3 linked regions of the Homo sapiens genome follow. The protein of the gene in region 3 purifies or fractionates together with the protein of the main gene of each other region. This does not show direct contact. Each region holds a gene or a part of one and is shown on either strand. Other genes may lie near its edges.

Region 1 (3,304 bases), on a different chromosome or scaffold from region 3:
GCCCTAACTAGAATGGAAAAAGTCAGACTTTATCTGCATCTAGTACATAATTAAAACAACTTACCAGGTTTACATTAAAGTTAAAAATTGCTAAGATTGACCATAAAAATATGTAAATAAGACAACTAAAAATAAATTTACATGCAAGGTGTGTAGGAACACTTAAATGTGTTTGTGGTAAAAGATTATAAAAAGGCATAAAAATGTAAATGTTGCCTATGGAAAAAGGATTCTTTTGAAACCTATGTAAGGGTAAAATTTGGCTTTCCTTCCCTTGTACAGATTTTTCATGTAATAGAGAAGAATAATGAAATATTTGGTTTGCCTTGTTGGTAGAATGCCAAGGAGAGAAAAGAGTAGACAGGAGACAAACTGTTTGGAAAGCTAAGTCTTACCTCTTAATGAGTAAAGATTGTTGCCTAGTTTTAAAATTTTTGAGTCATCCTTTTGCCAAAATAAATAACTTATGTGTAACCTGGAATTGTATTTCATACTATCAAGTGTCTTAAACCTCTTTTTACTAATTAGAGCTTTTATTTAAAATTAATGATATGTAACTATTACTGTATATGTAAGAAAAGAAACACACTTAGCTATTGCTTTGCGGATTTGCATTTAATTTTAAATTTTACAATTTAGATTCAGCATGAATTGCAATAAATGGATCTTCAGCAGAGTTACTAATAGAAAAATGAGCTTTGCCATCATCAGAAACGTAGATTTTAATGCCTGTGCAGTTGCCATTAATTTTATCTCCAGAAATGACATCACAGTATGTGCCAGCAGGAAGACCAGTTTGCAAAGTTAAAGAAAATGTCCTGTAAAATAAAATTTCAGATTTAACTTCAAAACAATGAAATCAAGAATACAGACTAACACAAATAAACAGCATAACTTTATGTTTTAGAACCCTAAGCAGTGAAGTCTCATTAAGAAGAAAACCCATATGCCTCCCTAGTAGGTGTAAACAGCTTTCTAGGACCAAAAGTAACCTTACAGAAAACCTACCAATTTCCTTTTCAGTAGTGAAAATATAACCGAAAAATCAAAGTTGAAGAATATCACCGAAGATTGGCGGGAGCGGTCACATTTTGATAAAGTGCTACCTTGGTAAAATCAAATTTTTTCTCAACTGAACTTAATGCCAATTACTTTAAAAATTTAAAGGGTATTATTTTTTTAACCTTCTTTTATTCTACATGAGGTCAAAAAGAATTTAGGGTGTACATAAAAACAGTCTAGCATTTGTATGAGGAAGTGATAGTTTGAAATATAAAGCTTTTTCACAAAAGATTTTTTTGGTATTTTCATCCACAAAAGAAGGAAACTAAGGAAATAGACACGCATTTTTTTGGCAGGAAAGAGATCAACTTGACTTATATATTTTTGTATTTATTTATTTTTCATAAGTGAAGTATAATTTATACTAGAGTGAGCTAAGTATGAGTGTCAGTTGGCCTTGGACAGAGACAATTCAACTGTTTGCAAGGAGGTCTTCTCAGCTACAGTTTCGGGAATCATTTATACTACAGCCAAAGGATACAAAAATCACAGATGAAAGGCCAATAATGAGAAGTTTCAGAACTAAAACTCAAGTCTCCTGAAGCAAATCATTAACCACAAGATACATATTATTTATCCATATGCTTTAAAAATGTTATTTGTCACAAGGAGACAGAGAAGTGAAGAAAGTATACCAAAAAACTAGGTAGAGCTGTCATTGAGAAAAAGAGAAATAAAGATATTTTAGTACTGAGGCAGCATTTTTCCATGATTAAAAGAGCAGGACTATAAGAAACGTTCTTTTAATGATTTCACAATCCTTCTATTAATTACTTTGTGTATTTTGTGGCATGTGTAGGTAAGCATATGAATGTGCATTCTATATATGCATAAGATATTGCAAGGGTGCACAGAAAGGATTCTGCTTACAACAGAAAGCACTTATGAAAACAGGAGAACGAAGGAGTAACAGCCATCATCCTTTTGCTTCTACCCAATTTTGATCTCTATTGTCTTCTCGCTCCACTGACTACATGATTTTTCAGATATGATAAATGTCAATGAACAGAAAAAAAAAAGAATAAACCAAGAACATACTGGTACAAAATATTATTTTTAATTGATATTTACTTACCAGTCATCATTGTTGAAAACAATGAATCCTCTGTTTCCTCTCCCAAAAGCCACTTGGTTGCTCCCATTATCATACCAGTTTGTAAAAGGCTGGCCATCCACTACATTGCGGAAATTAACCATGTTCCTAAAAACACAATACCATATAAAACGTTGATATTCTTAAACTTCAACTGTTTTAAATAAAGTGCTACGGAAATTTACTATTAGAGGACATGTCTAAATACATATTCTCACCTTATTTGGCGCCATCGATGTTCACAGACCCAGTCATTGCCACAAGTAGTGTCTGGATTAATAGTAACTTCTTTAGTTACTCCATTATCATTTGGTGGCCCAACCCAATCATTAACATCCTTAATTACAGGAGGAAAAGCCAAATTTTAGCATATATATATTTATCTCTTCCTTCTCCTTTAAACCAAACCCAACCTATCCTGTTACTTGTGTCTCTGCATTCAGTGACTTTATCTAGAATCCAATGCCTTCATTGATTTTTATAGCCCTTTACTGGGTCTTCATCATCTCTCTATCCTCTGGTTCTCTTTTGCCATATTTCAAACAAAGGTAGCAAATTGTTATCCTCTCCTTTTCATTCCAAGGCACTGCAAAGACTTCTTTGCTCTGTCACCCAGGCTGGAGTACAGTGGCATGATCGTAGCTCACTGCAGCCTTGATCTCCGAGGCTCAAGCGAACCTCCCATCTCAGCCTCCCAAGTAGCTAAGACTGTTGGTGTGCACCACCGCACCCAGCTAATTTTTTTTTTTTTTTAATTTTCAGTAGAGGCAAGGTCTTGCTAGCTTGCCCAGATAGGTCTTGAACTCCTCAGGTCAGCTGACCTTCTCAGCTGGCCGCACACAGTGCTGGGATTATAGGTGTGAGCCACTGCACCTGGCCTGCAAGGGCTTCTTAACATCACTGTAAGCCATGCAATGGCATTGAAATGGGAAGGGCATTAGTACTAGAAACACCAGGATTAAAACATAGGCTCTATTACTAGTAGCTGAGAAAATTTAATCAATATAAATAATTTCTCTGTGTCTCAGTTTCCTCATTTGTAAAATGAGAATAATGAGTTCTTTTGCTATAAAAATTAAGTAATATATGTGAAAATGCCTTGAACATGACATATGCTAAATAAATATTGGAGGCCGTCATGCTTCTTTT
Region 2 (3,656 bases), on a different chromosome or scaffold from region 3:
ATAGTTTGCTCAGAATGATGGTTTCCAGCTTCACCCATGTCCCTGCAAAAGACATGAACTCATCCTTTTTTATGGCTGCATAGTATTCCATGGTCTATATGTGCCACATTTTTTAAATCCGGTCTATCATTGATGGACATTTGGGTTGGTTCCAAGTCTTTGCTATTGTGAATAGTGCCACAATAAACATACATGTGCATGTGTCTTTATAGCAGCATGATTTAAAATCCTTTGGGTATATACCCAGTAATAAGATGGCTGAGTCAAATGGTATTTCCAGTTCTAGATCCTTGAGGAATAGTCACACTGTCTTCCGCAATGGTTGAACTAGTTTACAGTCCCACCAACAGTGTAGAAGTGTTCCTGTGTCTCCACATCCTCTCCAGCACCTGTTGTTTCCTGACTTTTTAATGATTGCCATTCTAACTGGTGTGAGATGGTATCTCATTGTGGTTTTGATTTGCATTCCTCTGATGACCAGTGATGATGAGCATTTTTTTCATGTGTTTTTTGGCTGCATAAATGTCTTCTTTTGAGAAGTGTCTGTTCATATCCTTTGCCCACTTTTTGATGGGGTTGTTTGTTTTTTTCTTATAAATTTGTTTAAGTTCTTTGTAGATGCTGGATATTAGCCCTTTGTCAGATGGGTACATTGCAAAAAGTTTCTCCCATTCTGTAGGTTGCTGTTCACTCTGATGGTAGTTTCTTTTGCTGTGCAGAAGCTTTTTAGTTTAATTAGATCCCATTTGTCAATTTTGGCTTTTGTTGCCTTTGCTTTTGGTGTTTTAGACATGAAGTCCTTGTCCACACCTATGTCCTGAATGGTATTGCCTAGGTTTTCTTCTAGGGTTTTTATGGTTTTAGGTCTAACATTTAAGCCTTTAATCCATCTTGAATTAATTTTTGTATAAGGTGTAAGGAAGAGATCCAGTTTCAGCTTTCTACATATGGCTAGCCAGTTTTCCCAGCACCATTTATTAAATAGGGAATCCTTTCTCCATTTCTTGTTTTTGTCAGGTTTGTCAAAGATCAGAGGGTCGTGACACAGCTACAAAATTATTAAGGTAATCATGCCAACAGGAAATAAACCACTGCAGTTGATAAGAGCTGTTGGCAAAAAGAGGTTTTTATTATGAACATTTTCCTTTTTGCTTTAAGCATTTCATTCACAGCATTTTTTTTTATTAAACATGATATAAAACTGCAAGAAGAAAGTTCCCTTTGGGTTGGTGGGTGAGCTACACTTTTCCTTCTCTTCCTTCCCTGTCAAAACAGCCCTACGCAAGGGCTGAAGTCATACAGCTCTCATCACTGAGAGCAATGTTAACCTCCCTGAAAATCAATAGCAATGTTTCATCTTACTGATATCAGGTGCAATGCCACATATGCAGTCACCAATATGTAATATAAGGAGAAGTGTGCACACTCTGTAAAACACCACCAGCTTAATCTATTTAGGACAGGAGAAAATGAAGAAACCTCTAAAAGGAATTGATGATGCCCTTCCCCAGTATTTTTGGTCACCTAACTTCTTCATTCTACCCATTGCTTCTTCTCTCTCTCTCCTATTTTTCTCATTCATTCTGATCTGACCACACTGGCCTCCACATTATCTCACACTCTAAGTCCTTTGCACCCCAGGGCTTTGCATTAGTTCTTCTCTATTCCTAGAACATTGATTGTCCAGATATTCTCATAGCTCCCTTCCTCACCTTCTTCAGGCATCTACTCCAAGTCCATTTATAGAGGGGGCTTCCCTAGCCAACCTACCACAAATAACACCTACCAGTCCATTATCTTCTATCCCCTTATTTGGATTTATTTTTTCTTCTTAGCACCTAGTACCTTACCTTATCACTGGTTGTTCATTTGCTTATTGTAACAAATATAGAATGCAAGCCTTGTGAAATTAAGAACTTTTGTTATTTCCTGTAATTCCCAGTAATAGAACATTACTTGGCATTTAGTAGGTGTTCAAAAAATTATTGTGTAATATTACAAAATTGGGTTTTTGTATATGTATGTCTACCATCAGACTCAGGTTCCTTAAAGATTGGTGGCTTTAGAGTTTTCTTTCATATGATGCCATGCTCCCAGGAGATAGCTGATGTGTCTGTGTGTGTTTTTGTGTGTGTGTATAAATAGGTATGTACATAAATATATACACTCATATGTATAAAAATGATCATGAACTGGATTTAGCCAATAATAATAATAATAATAATAATAATAATAACTGACAGCAATATTCTGTTTCCTGAGGATACAATCTTCATTTTACAAATGAGAAAACTGAGGAAGAACAGAGAGGATAAGCAACTTGCCAGCGGTCTCACTATCACCTAGGGTAGCAGGAATTCAAATCCAGGTGGTCTGTATCCAAAGCCTCTATCTTAAATCATGATAAAATACATCCTCATATGGATGTTTTCTTTGGCCCTCATGGTTTGGGCCAACAAAGTTTCTTTAAGTCTGTCTTTAAAGTCTCATTTCACTTGTCAACATTTTAAAACCTGGAGATTCCACAAAAAAATCTAGATTTCTAGCTTCTCTGGAAACACAGGAATGTGTGGTAATAAGGGCCAAATTTTCACATGGCAATGATGAACTGGAGCTGAATTGTCACTCCTCCTTTTGGACTAAACCCTCAGTTTTCACCACTGAGCATTTAATGCTTTCTTCCCTTGGATCAAATGTAAGTTGTGTGGTTCCTAGATCCTATGAGCATTTGGGTTTGCTAACCTGGGTGTCATGGTAAAATAGTAACTTGAGGTTTAACACTACCTAAAGAAAATAATATTAACAAATAATTGTATCTTTACATTTAAAATAGGCAAAATAATTAGTTACCAGTCATTTTTATTCTCTATAAATGAAATCACATATGAATTGTTTAAATATGTTTACATTTAACAAATTGTGTTTTTCATCTTAGAGAAGTGAAACTTACATAACTTTTTTTTGAAAGCTGATTTAGAAAGATTTATTGGAATATACAAGGAGTGTTATGTAGTTATACATGTCTTTCACATTCATATCTGCTGATGCAGCTGAATTCCTATGTGGGTTTTATTTTGTTTTTTTTTATATATATATAAACTTTAAGTTCTGGAATACATGTGCAGAACCTGCAGGTTTGTTACATAGGTATACATGTTCCATGGTGGTTTGCTGCACCCATCAACCCACCATCTACAGTAGGTGTTTCTCCTAATGCTATTCCTCCCCTAGCCCTCAACCCCCGACAGGCCCCAGTGTGTGATGTTCCCCTCCCTGTGTCCATGTGTTCTCACTGTTCGACTCCCATTTATGAGTGAAAATATTTTTATATGGAAATAACTGTGATTTTTTTATCTATTAAAAAATACAATAGCAAGAGCACAGTCTTAGAATAACCATTTCAGTCTTCAAATTTTACTACACGAAAGTAAATTTGTTATTTTGATATTATCAGTTCTGCTGCAAATGTTAGGTAATAATTGGTTTTAAAATGAAAATACTTTTATTTGACAATTGCATACTAGATTTTAAAAAATATAAATAACAAAATACATGGTTGGATTGTTGACTAGGCTAACATTGAAGTGAGTGTTCCTTTTAAGTTTTCTTAGCAAATATATCTAAGGAATTATATCCTGGTGGCAATTGGAATGTAA
Region 3 (3,656 bases):
AAACACAGGCAATCTGACAACAGAGTCCCAATAACCCCTTTCTACCAAGAACCCTTTCCCACTCACCGTATGCCATGAATGATGTGACAACCCACAGCTCATTGTCTGCAATAAAAGTGGCTCGATATGGCACGATATTGGGATGGTTGAAGAGTTTGGAGACATGCAGCTCGCCCTGGAAGCAATGATGAAGCTGAAGTCAGAACCAAATGGCACTGAAGGATGCCGCTCAACACAAAGATGGCAGCATGGACAATAGGGGGACCTGGCACTTTCTGGGTGTTCTCAGAGTCATGGGAACAGCCTAAGCAGGTGCCTGCCAACATAGGAAAAACAAGGCCCTGCTGCCTCTGCAGGGACCCAGCACTGCTTTGCCTCTGCCAGATAGGGAAACTGCCAACAACAAAGGGTGCCAGCACACCGACTCAGAGATGATGAAGGCAAACTGTTGACTGAAGACTTCTGAAGTTATAAGCTTATCTCAATTTCAAGGGCCAACGTATAGAATTCCTCTTTAAGATAAGAAAACAAAAAATATTTTGTTGTTGTTATTTGTAGAGACAAGGTCTCACTGTGTTGCCCAGGCTGGTCTCAAACTCCTGGGCTCAAGCAGTCCTTCTGCCTCAGCCTCCCAAAGTGCTAGGATTATAGGCGTGAGCCACCAAGCCACTGCACCTGGCCAAAAATGTTTTCTTTTTTATTTTTTTGAGACAGGGTCTTGCTCTGTCACCCAGGCTGGAGTGCAGTGGTGTGATCCCGTCTCACTGCAGCCTGAACTTCCCAGGCTCAAGTCATCCTCCCACCTCAGCCTCGCTGGTAGCTGCGACCACAGGTGGACGTCAACATACCTAGCTAATTTTTTATATTTTTTTGTAGAGACAGGGTTTTGCCATGTTGCCTAGGCCTGCTTTGGCCTCCCAAAGTGCTGGGATTGCAGGCGTGAGCCACTGTGCCCAGCCCAAAACTATGTTTCTATTATAAAAGAAAACATGGCCGGGCATGGTGGCTCACGCCTGTAATCCCAGCACTTTGGGAGGCGAGGCAGGCAGATCACTTGAGCCCAAGAGTTGGAGACCAGCCTGGGCAACATGGCGAAACCCCATCTATATGAAACATACAAAAAATTAGTTGAGCATGGTGGTGCATGCCTTTAGTCCCAGCTACTCGGGAAGCTTAAGTGGTAGAATCACCTGTGCCTGAGCAGTTGAGGCTGTGGTGAGCTGTGATTGCACCACCGCACTCCAGCCTGAGCAACAGAGCCAGACCTTGTCTCAAATAAAGAAAAAAAAAAGAAAAAGAAAACACAGTTGATGGAGGAGAAGGCCAGCTGAGACTGGCTTCTGCTCCATCCTCAGACCCACCAAACTACTATGAACAGATGAACAGGTCCTAGAGCACCATCAGGTAACCACCAATTCAGAAAAAGTTGTAAATGAAGGAGGGGAGGGGCTGCAACTAACTCTACTGAAGGAAAACTGCCCCAGGCCCTGACTCTAAGCTGGCATCAGGAAAGGAGAGTCTAACTCCCAAGCACTTACTAGACTCACAGTCTCTCTCCGTTTTGTTTTGTTTTATTTTTTGAGCCAGGGACTCAGTCTGTCACCCAGGCTGGAGTTTGGTAGTGCAATCTCAAACTCCCGGGCTCAAGCAATCTCCCTGCCTTGCCCTCCCAAAGTGTTGGGATTACAGGCATGAGCTACCATGCCTGCCCCCTCTCTCAGTTTAACGAGAGAGTGGCTACTTGCTTCTCGAATAGAAAGGAATGTCAGGACTGGGCATAGTGGCTCACACCTGTAATCCTAGCATTTTGGGAGACTGAGGTGAGTTGATTGCTCGAGCTCAGGAGTTTGAGACCAGCCTGGGCAAGATGGTGAAACTCTGTCTCTACAAAAAATACAAAAATTAGTCAGGTGTGGTGTGCCTATAGTCCCAGCTACTTGGGGGGCTGAGGCAGGAGAATCATTTGAGCCCAGGAGGTTAAGGCTGCAGTAAGCCGTGGTCCTGCCACTGTACTCCAGCCAGGGCAATAAAATGAGACCCTGTCTCGAAAAAAAAGAGGCCAGATGCGGTGGCTCACATTTGTAATCACAGCACTTTGGGAGACCAAGGCAGGCAGATCACCTGAAGTCAGGAGTTTGAGACCAGCCTGGCCAACATGAAGAAACCCCGTCTTTTCTAAAAATACAAAAGTTAGCCGGGCATGGTGGTGTGCGCCTATAGTCCCAGCTACTCGGGAGGCTAAGGCAGGAGAATCGCTTGAACCTGGGAGGTGGGGGTTGCAGTGAGCCGAGATCGTGCCACTGCACTCCAGCCTGGGTGACAGAGTGAGAATCCGTCTCAAAAAAAAAAAAAAAGAAAAGAAAAAGAAAGGAACATCAGGCAAACAGGAGGCTGAGAGCCAGAAGATGGCCACTGGTGGCAGGGCAGGCACCTTGTGTCTGGAACAAGATGGCCTGGGTTTGAATCCTGCCTCTGCCATGAGCAAGTTACTTAGCTTCTTTCTAAATAATAAATAAATGAATAAAAAAGCCAGAAGGGAGTGTTTGGAGAAGAAAAGGGAAATATAAATTAGGCTGAGCAGCATTTCAGCCCAATCCTTAGTGCCAAATGGCCAGGATTCTCCACTGAAAGCTTCCATAACTTCCGAACGTTTAGTCTCCCTTCATTTCTTTGTAATTCCTTGTAATTCCTATCAGAGCCAAGAGCCCACCCTCCCTCCATGTGACACACTCATGGTTTATTACCTGCAAGAATGTTACCATCTCATTGGAACAAGCTTCTAGGTTAATCCTCCGTACAGTCACGTACTCTCCTGTTGGTTTGTACCTTGCTAGATTCACAGTCATCAGGTCCTCAAATCCTTTGCCTAAAAGAAAAAGGGAATGCCATACGCAAGGACAAGAACAACAAAAGGTTTTAAGAAAATTTTCCTTTAAAAAAGGGACTTGATTTCAAAAGAAACTTAATGTTAAATTTTTCACTACTGTTACTTTTTTTTTTTTCCTTTTCCCAGCAGAATTTAACTGTTATGTTCATGGCTCACATTTCTTGATTTTTCTCTCATCAGTTCCTTCTCAGCCAACCTTTCTGACTCACTATGGCCAGGACACCGGAAACATGGCAGCCACAAAGGAAAGATGGCAAAAGAGCTTCTTTCCTGGAAGTTTGATCTCTTCCCATACTTGGCATAAAAAAACAGAGAAGACCCACAGAAGCAAGTCTGTGCCCATGAATCCTCCTAACTAGTGGATGGCCTCTGCTGTACACACATCTGGGGCTGCTGAGAAAGCTGCAGCAGCCCCTGGAGCAGAAAGCAGGAGAGTAAGGACGGCCCCTGCACATACCTATCACAGTGAGCAGCTCGTAACACCCTCCCTCTGGCAGAAAGCTACTCATGACCTCCTGTTTAGAGAAGGATGCTATTGACTCTGAGCTCGCATCATTGGTCTAAAAAAGAAAAAGAAAAATAGGTTAGTAGAGAAAACTGGGGGTGGGATGGGAGTGGGGTGAAGGTGGTAATTCAGACCCACGAGGAGACTGGCATCTAAACACACACACAAATCCCGACTCAGTGCCAGCACTATTTGAAGAGAAACAAAACACTACATTCAGGGTAGTAATCAGCACTAATATCAGAGCAAGTGTTAGGGTTGTCT

What was found.
Region 1: the proteins of STRADA (region 3) and AMY1A purify together in Homo sapiens (affinity purification with mass spectrometry, with the first as the bait; one large-scale study listed by BioGRID). This does not show direct contact.
Region 2: the proteins of STRADA (region 3) and GC purify together in Homo sapiens (affinity purification with mass spectrometry; one large-scale study listed by BioGRID and IntAct). This does not show direct contact.

The regions. Positions count from the first base shown.
Region 1 is NC_000001.11:103,661,845-103,665,148, reverse strand, and holds the end of AMY1A (alpha-amylase 1A precursor), read right to left. Parts: intron 2,493-3,304; coding exon 2,374-2,492; intron 2,264-2,373; coding exon 2,138-2,263; intron 819-2,137; coding exon 629-818; 3' UTR 595-628; downstream 1-594. UniProt on the Homo sapiens protein: Calcium-binding enzyme that initiates starch digestion in the oral cavity.
Region 2 is NC_000004.12:71,777,472-71,781,127, reverse strand, and holds part of GC (vitamin D-binding protein isoform 1 precursor), read left to right. Parts: intron 1-3,656. UniProt on the Homo sapiens protein: Involved in vitamin D transport and storage, scavenging of extracellular G-actin, enhancement of the chemotactic activity of C5 alpha for neutrophils in inflammation and macrophage activation.
Region 3 is NC_000017.11:63,710,662-63,714,317, forward strand, and holds part of STRADA (STE20-related kinase adapter protein alpha), read right to left. Parts: intron 3,448-3,656; coding exon 3,345-3,447; intron 2,867-3,344; coding exon 2,745-2,866; intron 176-2,744; coding exon 67-175; intron 1-66. UniProt on the Homo sapiens protein: Pseudokinase which, in complex with CAB39/MO25 (CAB39/MO25alpha or CAB39L/MO25beta), binds to and activates STK11/LKB1.